Homo sapiens: one gene and its partners. The protein of the gene in region 2 interacts with the protein of the main gene of each other region in a biochemical or structural test. Each region holds a gene or a part of one and is shown on either strand. Other genes may lie near its edges.

The links.
Region 1: of the proteins of HMGN1 (region 2) and RPS6KA3, one has a biochemical effect on the other in vitro, tested with the Homo sapiens proteins (one study listed by BioGRID).
Region 3: the proteins of HMGN1 (region 2) and HPF1 form a complex in vitro, tested with the Homo sapiens proteins (one study listed by BioGRID).

Annotation. Positions count from the first base shown.
Region 1 is NC_000023.11:20,260,260-20,264,012, reverse strand, and holds part of RPS6KA3 (ribosomal protein S6 kinase alpha-3), read left to right. Parts: intron 1-3,753. UniProt on the Homo sapiens protein: Serine/threonine-protein kinase that acts downstream of ERK (MAPK1/ERK2 and MAPK3/ERK1) signaling and mediates mitogenic and stress-induced activation of the transcription factors CREB1, ETV1/ER81 and NR4A1/NUR77, regulates translation through RPS6 and EIF4B phosphorylation, and mediates cellular proliferation, survival, and differentiation by modulating mTOR signaling and repressing pro-apoptotic function of BAD and DAPK1.
Region 2 is NC_000021.9:39,347,207-39,350,959, forward strand, and holds the start of HMGN1 (non-histone chromosomal protein HMG-14), read right to left. Parts: upstream 1,883-3,753; 5' UTR 1,712-1,882; coding exon 1,697-1,711; intron 1,400-1,696; exon of another isoform or gene 1,372-1,399; coding exon 1,339-1,371; intron 1,248-1,338; exon of another isoform or gene 1,246-1,247; coding exon 1,216-1,245; intron 1,134-1,215; coding exon 1,086-1,133; intron 737-1,085; exon of another isoform or gene 173-736; intron 87-172; exon of another isoform or gene 1-86. UniProt on the Homo sapiens protein: Binds to the inner side of the nucleosomal DNA thus altering the interaction between the DNA and the histone octamer. May be involved in the process which maintains transcribable genes in a unique chromatin conformation.
Region 3 is NC_000004.12:169,744,300-169,748,052, forward strand, and holds part of HPF1 (histone PARylation factor 1), read right to left. Parts: intron 1-3,753. UniProt on the Homo sapiens protein: Cofactor for serine ADP-ribosylation that confers serine specificity on PARP1 and PARP2 and plays a key role in DNA damage response.

The DNA of each region.
Region 1 (3,753 bases), on a different chromosome or scaffold from region 2:
GGTTCCTATCAGATAATTGTATTTTACCAGAGTAACATAGTTTTTTTTAGAGTCATTTACTTGAGTGAATACATCAAAATATTTCTCTCCAGGTTAAAAGATTTCAGGATTGGTCTGTGTAGGAGTTTACATTTATGGTCTCATCCCTAGTACACTGTGAATTCTTGAAAGCAGACATTTTTCCCCCCCTCTCTGAATCCTCAGCATTCAGCACAATGCCTGGCCCTGACATATTGTGGACTTAATAAATATCTGCTGAATGAATCATGAAAGTCAGGAATAGGATGATTATGAATCTTATCTGTTTTTTATCATTTTAATCTCATTAAAATATGAACAATTTAAAAAGACCTCAGTGCCTCAGTAAAAACACAGGCAGTTTCTTCAGTTCCTTTACACTGGCCTTCCTGCTTTAAGACCTCACACGAATCTCATGGTGTTCAAAACAAAAAAACCCTTGTGGTTAAACTCAAACGTGGGTCAGAACATGATAGGCTAGAACTAGGCCAAATGTTTAAAGAAGCAAATTTAGGATAATAAAGGAAGTACTATGTAAGCAAAGTAAGGGTTGGTACAAGATAAAAAACAAACTAGCTTCCTAACTGGTCTAGGTGAACTCTTTAGTGAGTTACTTAAAGATGCTAATATGCTTTTGAATATTTGACTGTTTAGAGGATGGATAGGTAGGAATTATGGCTCTTCTGTTGTACAAATTCTTTGCCAGTGCTGTCAGAGACAGCATTTAGTGGATCATAAGCCTGACCTAGAGTGATACTTTTTTCTCCACTGCAATAGAGTAGGTATAAATGATAGTAAATCTAAATATGAAGTTTTCAAAATGATAAAATTATGGAGGTTATTTTTGTTTTATAGAAATGTGTTATATAAAATAGCCACAATATAATGTGTTGTATACAATGTGTATTAAACAATGTGTTGTATGAAAATAGCTACCTCGACTTCCTTTAAATAACAGGTACCCATGATGCACTGAAAAATATTTAAAAAATCAACTATATAAGTATTTTATTATAGAAAATGAGGCCTTTGTGTGGGAGATCATGTTTAGTGAATGTGCAGCCATTTTTAACCTCAAAGATTATGTAGTATTCTATAGTATAGTACATAGATTTTATAGTATTTCTACTATATCAATATTATATAGGTTTCTTATTTTATCTATAGGGAAAATGCTCTATTAAAGTATAATCATTGATTTTGAAAAAAAATGTTTTATTGTTTCTTTTCCTTTTCCTGTTTTATTTTTACCACCTTTCAGGTTTTTTTCTTTCCCCTAAGTGAAGATCTGAGGAGAGGACAGGTATTGTTACATGTCAACTGTCAAGTAACTGTGACCCATTACTGAACACTTCATTGTTTTCAGTGATTATGATAGAGGATGTCAGTTTTGTAAAATCTAGAAAACTTTGCTTTATTTTGGCAGCTTGATCCTGTAGTAATGGGGTAGATTCAAAATGTGAAACTTGCTGGATGCATTTAAATTTTATTAATAAAACTTTTATCTAATTGCAGGAGCAAATATAGGCAGACTTTGTCTTCTCTTTAGTATACATTTCTGGAAACCACAATAAGTATATCTTATTTTTAATAAGACAGGTGGCATAATTGGACTGTGTACTCCTGACCAAGGACTTGACATTTGCTAAATTATAGAATGACCAAAAATACAGATCACTTATCTAGAAGTCTGAGTTGCAGAACAATTGTCCTAAAGTTTTTAAAAATTTTTATTACTAAGAAATTCATACCATTGTGATAATTAACAAGATTTGCTCTACAGTTCAATGCTCAGGGACATGTGATCTGCCAGGCTGTGAATGATGGGTAAGGTCACACTTGCCTGGTTGACCCAGTGCAGAATGGGTGCTTTAGACCCAACGGTTCAGATTATAATGAATGACACACTGACATGGTGGTGGTCTCACTGGTAATGCCTGCGTGTGATAGTGCTCAGTTGTTTATGTGCTTTGGTGGATAACACATTTTAAAGCATTGAAATGCAGCTGTGCAAGTACATATATTATACATCCCGTTCCCCAATTCACATAAATAGAAAAAAACAAGTATCTAAATTGTAATACCTAGCATTCAATGTCTTCCTTCCACCCCACTCCCATCAGTGTGTTCTTTTGGAATTAATACAGTGACCTGTATCATTAACCTGGAGATATCAGATCTCAGATATTCTAGTTTATCAGTTAAACACCAAAAAGCATTAAAACAAAGAAAAACTACCCTATTTAATCGTTCAGTAAAAACTACCATATTTAATCATTAAGTTTTGTCATGATTTAGCAAAACAAACGCAAATGTGTGTGTGTCTGTGTGTGTATGTGTTTTATAAAACAGGTTCAGGATAAAATGTATCCATATAGCACATTATGATTATTTTAATACATTTGGCCTATTTATTTTTTGACAGTTTATCAAGTTGTACAATTTAAAAGCCAATATTTATTAATCCCTAATGTACAGAAACATAGGAGGAAGTTGTCTCTTTGGTTAAACAAACTGTTGAAAGATAAACTTTGGCACACCAAAATGTTTACTTTTCAATTGATAAATAATATTTGTACATTTTTATGGGGTCATGTGATATTTTGTTCCATGCATAGAATGTGTAATGATCACATCAGGGTATTTGGGATATCCATTAATCATTTCTGTGTGTTGGGAACATTTCAAATCCTCTCTTTTAACTATTCTGAAATATATAAAACATTGTTATTAACTATAGTCACCCTACTCTACTCTGCTATCCATTGTTAGAACTTATTCCTTCTATCCAATTGTATGTACTGTGCCCATTAACCAACCTTTCTTCACCCCCACCCCCTCTGTAACCCCCACACTCGTCCTATCCTCTAGTAACTCTCATTCTGAGTAGAAACTCCCTACCTATGAGTCCCACGTGTGAGTAAGAACATGCAGTATTTGTCTTTTTGTCATGTGACCTATTTTAAGCAAATACATTAGTTACTAGTAATTAAGTAATTTGGTTTTTGCTCATTCTTAAAACTTAGAAGGGACTTTGTGGGGTTATTTGGATTAATAGCAAAGTGTTAAAGAACATAAGCTCTGGAGCCATAAAGACCTGTGTTTGAGTCCTGGCTCTGCCACTTAATAACTTTGTAACCCTATGCAAGTTATATTTAATATCTCTATACTTCAACATCCTAATTTGTAAAATAGGGATGAAAATAATGTCTACCTCATAGAGTTTTGGTGAGAATTAAATGAAATGATAATATATGTAAAGTACTTGGTTCAGTACATGGTTTAAGTTTTTAATAAACAATAGTTACAATGAATCATCCCTCTTAAAGAACTGTCTCAGTTCTTTGTTTTTCCTCTGGGGTAATTTTTTAGAATCCAGCAAAGCAATTAAAAGTGATTTATTTGATTGATCAGTTTAAATAGTCATGGTAATATCTGAACGTAATTGAAAGGGCAAGGGGAACAGAAATCTCTTTAATCTTACCCTTTTTGCATTGATCCCTTCCTCAGTATTGTCTTTAAAGGGAAAAAACAACATTGTGAAGAATATATGTGGAAGAAGGAAGAAAGGAAAGTTTGTTCACATTTTTAACATTGCTCAAATTGGAAGATGTCTCACAGTCCATGGGATGTCATAGTTTAATTAGCAGCATGTTTTTCCTTAACAATATATAAAATAATAGTGTATCTTACACTTGATTGTATCTTTTAATCAATGAAATATAGTGTATTCTG
Region 2 (3,753 bases):
GTAATGAGAAATTTAAAGTTGAAAAATACTATTCTCATACCTTCCGTGAAGCTTTATTTTTAAAAGGATCACAAAAACAGAACTTTCTGTTAAAGAAAACATAGTTAACATTTTTACACTCAGCTCTGTAAAAAATTTAAATTAAAAAAGAAAAAACATCTTTGTTTTATACCTTTATTTAACAAGGACAAATTTAGTAATTATCCAACAACTCCTCAATGTCAAGGAAATTAATCTTGCCTCTTCTGATGACTGCAGTGCTAAACTTCTACCTACACTTTTAGGAAAGAGGTGAAGGCATTAACAAAAATTTTTTTTGAGACTTCAAATAGCAAACTCTCACCTAAGTTTTGGATAAAAATTAATCACCCCGCGAAGAACATGTAGAGCTTTACAGGTTTCAATGCTATATCCAAACACAAAGCTTATACTTGTTTTACACATGTTCTGCTTTTCCACCCTGCAAGTTATCAAACACACGTACACCCAAAGCCAACTTCATTCTACAGACCTGCAATTCGAATCATGCAATCACGAATTTGTTAGGGAGCAGCCAAAATCACGGTTTTGTATAACTGCTGATGAACACTTCCAGAGTAGTGGCGGTTATTTTCTCAGAGATCACAACTTTTTACCTCCCCACCCCCACCCCGTAAAAAGGTTAAGGCTTCCCGAAGTTGGCTTGGAAACTGTATATATAAAAACTTACACGTTCCCTTTCTCCTGGCCTCGGTGCTATCTTGACTCTTTTATTGTCAAAAAAGGAAGTACAAGCACGAATTAAAAGCCAAGCACCAGCCACAATGTACGCAACGCAAAGAATAAATTTCCTTTGTAGACTTAATATTTAATATTTTTTGTCGTCCTAAGTCTCCTAACATCTGCAGCAGCATTAGTGTGATATAGTTCTATAAACCAGGATGAATATATCCATTACATTTTTGCCTCGACCACTAGAAAAATTATTTACCGTAATTATTAAAGTATAAATAAAGCTCCAATAGCTAATCAAAATGGAAGCCCCGCATTAAGAAGCAGTGTAGCCTAAGGCCCCGCTGCATCCCAATGCGCGTTTCGAGGCTTACCTTCGCTGCTGCCTTTTTCGGCTTCGCTTCCACTTTTGCAGGAGGTTTCTGAAAGGCAAAAGCAGCACTGAGCGTCCTCACCCGGGACGACCCGCGGAAAACGAACGGTTACGGGGCTCGCTTTACTTACAGCTGACAACCGCGCCGATCTCCTCTTGGGCTTGGAGAAAGAAAAAGGAGAGTCAGCGAGAAGAGAAGGCAGGCCAGCGGCTCACGGGAAACCCACCACCCCCCGCAGAAGGCCCGCACTCACCTCTTCCTTGGCGGCGCCTTCGGCGGAGCTGACCTGCGGAGACGGAGACGCACGAATAGAGGCGGGCCGCAGTCCCAGGACTCGCGGGCCCGCCCGGCCCCGAGAACAATGCCCGGCCGCGTGACGTCACGGCTTCCCGCCGCCCCGTTCGAATAGCCCCCTCAGCTCCCCCGGCCGCCAAACGTTCCAGAACGCCCGCCCCCGCGGCCGCCGAGCGCTCGCCTGCCCGCCCGCCGGTCTCCAAGCGCCTCCCGGGCCCGTCGCCACCGTGGGTGCAACGGGGCCTGGGCCTCGCGGGGCCCGGCGGGGCGCCGGCGGCGGCTCCAGGGGGCGTGTGCGGGCCGCGGCCGCCGCTCACCTTCCTCTTGGGCATCGTGGCGGCGGGGAAGGCGCGTGCCGGGTGCCTGCGGGGAAGGCGCGTGCCGGGTGCCTGCGGGCCGCGGCGCGCCGACAGCCTTCGCGAAACTGGGCTGCCTTGCCGCTGCCACTCCTCCCGCCGCCCGAGCTGCTGAGACCCACAGCGGGGGCGGTGGGAGAACCGGATGGAACCGGATTGGGAGCCCGCCTCCTCCTCCCCCCGCGTCCCCGGCCGCGGGCTCCCCCTCCCCGCCGGCCGGGCCGCCCCCCACCCCCGCCCATTGGCTACGGGACTCAGCCCGCGCCCGGAATAGGTGAGGCGGGCCCTTAATTGATCCCGGACCCCGCCCCCTTCCGGGGGCCCCCCCCCCCCCCCCGGGCGCCCCCACCCCTTTCCGCCGTCTCGCGGGGCCCCAGACCCAGGCGAAGGGGGCGGGGTCCCAGTGGCGCTCCGGCCTCACGGTAGTTTGAAGCCGAGCCGCAAAGTGCGGTCTGCGCGCTGATTGGCGGACGCACGTCACGGGACCGCGGGTCCCCACCCACAATTCTTCTGGATACCTGGGCGCCTTCAGGCCACTGGTATCTGGCCCCTCCCCTCCGGGGTGAATTGGGTTCGAACATTTATAGTTCGTATCTTAGACTGGGAAGGGAGAAGGATAAGGTATACAGGAAGTAGCAAATTTCTCCCGCCTCTGTCGGCAAGAAAGGCTATCCAGGGGCTCCAGCTTCGCAGGCCTGCGTGAAGCGGGCCCTGGTGCGCAGGCGCTGCAGGAGGGCGTGGGAAGGAGAGCCGACGCGGCCTTTCTGTGTAACTTCCTTCCTTCCTTCCTTTTATTTGAGACAGGGTCTCGTTGTGTCGTCCAGGCTGGAGTGCAGTGGTGCGATCACGGCTCATTGCAGCCTCGACCCCTTCGGCTCCAGCGAACCTCCCACTCCGGCCTCCCGAGTAGCTGGGACCACAGGGCACCATTTTGCCCAGCTAACTTTTGTATTTTTTGTAGAGAGGGGGTTTCACTATGTTGCACAGCATGGTCTCCGACTCCTGGGCTCAAGCGATCCTCCCGCCTCGGCCTCCCAAAGTGCTGGGGATCCAAGCTGTGGAACTTTCTTCAGATTTCCCTGGAGGACTGCAGGTGCACGAGGGTCGTTTCTGGGCCCAGAGTAGGGCAGCTCTCAGATTGCAGCTCCTGAGAGCCGTGCGCGACCGTCTCCAGCACTCGCGGACCCCCAGAGGGCTGTTTTTTTTTCTCCATAGCATTGATTGAATATATATCCTTATACATTCCATATATATCTCAGGAAGAATACACAAGGAAGTGGTACCAGCGGTTGCCTCTGGGGAAAAGTGGGAAGATTGAGGGTAAAATTTCCCTTTTCTCGTGTGTAATTTTTTTTCACTTTCCTATCTGCATGGATTACCTTAAAAAAATTCAACATCAGAGAGTACCCAAGTTTGTGGCACAAGCATGTACTGAGCACCTGCCCTGTGGCAGGCACCGTGAAGTCCCTGGGGTAGAGAGAATCCAGGTTTGTATCCCAAGCACTGGGTCTAGTAATTTAGTGGGGAGAGAAAGTACCCAATTGGCCTAGTAAAGAAAGGGGAAGCCATCGGCAGGGGGGGTCAGCATATTTCAAGGCATGCTGACTTGCTAGAGTGTGGCAGCCCACCAAGACCTTTAAAGTGGCAGGGATGGAGATACGAAAAATGGACGTAAAGATCAGGGAAAAGAGGCAGAAAAAAAGAAGAGCAGCCCGTCATGAAGTTCGATCATTATCCAAAGATTGAGGGATACTGCAAGGTCTTAAGCAAGCGAACTCTATGCTTTTGGACTTACCTCATAAAGAACTTTCTCCCATAAGAACCGAAGATGCGCTAGGCCAGAGGTGACAACTGATGGTCCACAGATGTTTTATTTGGCCTAGTTTTTTTTAAGTTGCCAACACAAACAAATGGAGCAGCCAGAACTCAAATGAAAAACTATTTGGCAGTAGATTCCACTACTCATCAGCATGGGGGTTTTGACCTGCTCCGTTTCTGACCTGACCCCTTCATAGGCA
Region 3 (3,753 bases), on a different chromosome or scaffold from region 2:
ATCCTCTTTTACCTCTGCCACTATTGAAGGCACTTGGTAGCTGCCTTCCCATACATATGACATTATTATGACTATCTCTGTAAGTTTTTGTCTCTGCCGAAACCTACTCTAACACTTTACTGTGTGATGCTTAAAGATAAGGTGCGATGTGCAACTGAAGCCATAACCATGAACGTGAACATTTTGTGCTGTGACTTTAAATCCATTAGAATGTCTTCAACGCAAATGAATTTGTACCCATGCATGTTATATGGCATCATGCAATGGCCCTTTGGAAATAGTGGTTTACTAAGTTATATAGATGTAAGTGTTGAAACTTATATATCAAATTCATTACATAACATTATGAAAAAAAGCTATTGCGCTCACAGTGGTATTACAAGTTTCTCAATCTAATTTTTATTTGAAACCCTGAATTTTATCACTGACAAAAAATATAGTCAGTTGTTTTCTTTGGTTCATTTGAGAGAATTCCTGCCAGTAGCTAGACCCAAATAACCAGTTTGTCAATGAGTCACTCTTTTTTTTTTTTGCATTCCAATCTTGGGTTTATTCAACACAATTCTTCCACTCTACACAACAAAGTACAAACACAATGTCATCTAAAATGCTACAAAGGTATAAAACTCAAAGAGAAATTTTATAGTACTGACTGTACAATAAGAAAAAAAAAGAAAAGCAATGTACATGTTGCCAAGATAACCTGAAAGACCACCATGAAGGACAGGCACAACCATGGCTGCGGGATGACCCCACAGAGCTGGCTCTCAACTCACTCGCCAATTTCAGAGTAGGGTGGTGGGGTGGTGTGTGTGCATAGGTGCACGGACAGACAGAACCATGCACAGCAACTACCATGGGTGAGAGGATCTTTGGGGGTGTGTGACCCTTGAAGTCGGAAGAGGCCTCGAGAGGCCGGGCCTAACAGGGTTGGCAGCTGCACTAAACCCTGGGGCAGCTCCCTTTCCAAAAGGACACTGCCCAGCGACAGCAAGGGCACGGCCTGGCCACCATCCCAGGTCATCAGGGAAGGGAAAAGTGTGCTCCCAGGTAGGCAGGGTCAAAGCACCCCCAAGAGTCTTACTTGTCCCTGGTGGCTCTGCCACTGAACTGACTCTTAGAAACTGGAAATGGGTGAGCTTTCTAGCCAGAAAACCAGAGGGAATCTTGACAGGCACACAGTCAATGAGTCACTCTTTCTAAAAGTGGGGAAAAGTTCATCTCAAAATTCAATCATACAAGGGCTTTTTTTTCCCTTGAGACAAACCACAGTACTTCAGTATGAGAAATGCTTTCTATGTATTTCCTATTTCATCACAGAATGTTAAAGAGATGAACTCAATGGTAGACATCTAATACATGTATACTCCAACACTGACATTTTTCAGGCACAGGGTCTTGCTATGTCGTTTAGGATGAACTTGAACTCCTGGGCTCGAGCAATGCTCCCACCTCAACATCCCGAGTAGCCACCATGCCTGGCTCCATCACAAACATTTTTAAATACATTTGCATGTTACTGCTGTGAATAATGCAATGACTGCTGCTACCCTGGTGGCACTATCTTGATTCCTGCCAAGGTGACAACAGTATTATCCACTATTTACTTTGTGCCATTGGTGCAAAAATAACATTTTATTATCACAAATAGTTTTGACCTTAAGGGTCCCTGACCCAAGGTCAAAACTGTTTACCCCAGTTATTTTAGGAAAATAAATAAGGCAGAAGGAAAAAAAAAATCATTCCTTTGTTGTTCAAAGTTATTTAAGAATTATGTTTACTTCCATATGCATTAGACAGTATGAAATGGAATCATTCTACACTATTGTTATTTGCCCACTTCATAACAAATTCAACAAATCAATACCAAAGTATTATAGTATATGGATAGTTTATATTTACCTAATCTTCCCTATTGCTGGATATGTTGCCAATTTTTCATTTGATAAACAATCTGTAATACACATATTTCTGTACCTGTCCAAAATCCCTTTAATAAACAGCTAGAAGTGAAATTGCTAACTTAAGGGTATAAATGTGTACTTCACATAGTACCTGACAATGTCACCTATTAAGAAATCTTAGAATATGCTTTCTAAGTTAACATTTTTCAAATGTTAACATTAAACATTTTTCAAACTGCTTTCTACAAAAGTTTTACCAATTAACACATCAGTAAGGGTTCTTATACCCTAACCATCATTGGTTATTACCATTCTTTAACCTTTAAAAAAAATCTTTGCTGGTTAAATTGGCATTTCTTTAGTTACTATTAAATCTTGCAGACACAAGATTTAATAATAACTAAAGATAAAAATGTGTTGATCAAAGGTATGCCTTGAAAGACCTTATTCAGTCTGCCATAAAAATAAATTTTAAAATATATAAAGAAATTAAGTGTTCTGGTTAGCTGATTTAAGGAGGTAGTACCTAAAAAACTAAAACCGTTATAATACTTTAAAAGTACTAAAATAGTTATATCTCAAGTAATTTTTTACCCCTGTTTGAGATAAATTATTGGAGGTAGTTCCTCAAATACTCACTTGCTGATCTTCACCTAAGTTATAAATATCACCCATGCATTTTTTTTTTCTTTTTCATTGTCTATGTTCTCCAATTAGCTTAAAAAAAAAAAAAGATACCAGAAGAGTCTTGGGTTATGTTACATGACCACTATTATGTTATCTTTTTTTAAAAAAAAAAAAAAACATGACTAATAACACAAATGAAAAGTTAGGCTTGTTTTTCGAAAAAGAGACAGTCTCACTATGTTGCCCAGCCTGAAAAAATTAGGTGTTTTTACATGCCAAGGTATTTATAGAATTAATATTTATGGAGCATCTAGTATGGGGCAGATACTCTGCCCTCGTGGAACTTAACATGCTAGTGCAAGAGACAGACAATAAGCAAGAAAACAACAAGAGTTTCTAATAAAGATGGCACCAATTTAAATTGAATGATAAATCCAAAGAGTTTAAAAGAAGTTATAAATTACAAATACCAAGTAACATTTTATAGGAAACTGAGAGGTATTAGAAAAGAAAGAACATTTTTGGACATCTACAATGTAGCTGCCTTGTAGATACACCAGTATGTACGTAGCATAGTCTAGTGGTTGTAGTAGGGTGATTTAGTTTGAATTCACTTTACTGCAAATTTGTATGATCAAATCACAGGGAACAACAGCCCTTTAAAGAGACAGTACTAAAAGAGGTCAAAGAAAAGATAATCTACTTGTATTTGAAGTGATAAAGTTTGCTTTCTTCATTACAATGCAAACTACACAGCTGCTGACAAATAAAATGGCTTCAAGTCATGTCTGTGGCTGATATAGCACAGACTGGCTCACTCACCTCTATTCCAACCCCTTCCCCATGAAAGTTCACTGCATTTCCCATACTACTCTTTAGCTCAGGCTCCACATGGGACCTATCTTCTTCCAAGCAGCTGCAATACTTTGAAATCTCAGAGGCAGAAGAGATACCACATGGAGGCTGTGCTTCCACGATCTCCATCAATGAGCACAGCTGTAGAGGCATCTGATGGTTCTGCAGCAGCTGTAGCTGAGATCCCAGCACCTGGTTCTTAGCTTCACGGGGGCTGAGAGGCAAAGAGTAGGGCATCCATTTACCTGGCCCAGATTATACCAAAGATAATGTGGTCCTAGAGCCACTCACTGTGGCAGCAGTTCTCGAATTCCCAGCTCCCTGATGGTGGCAGAGACAAAATCCACTGTGAGCCACACAACTGTCA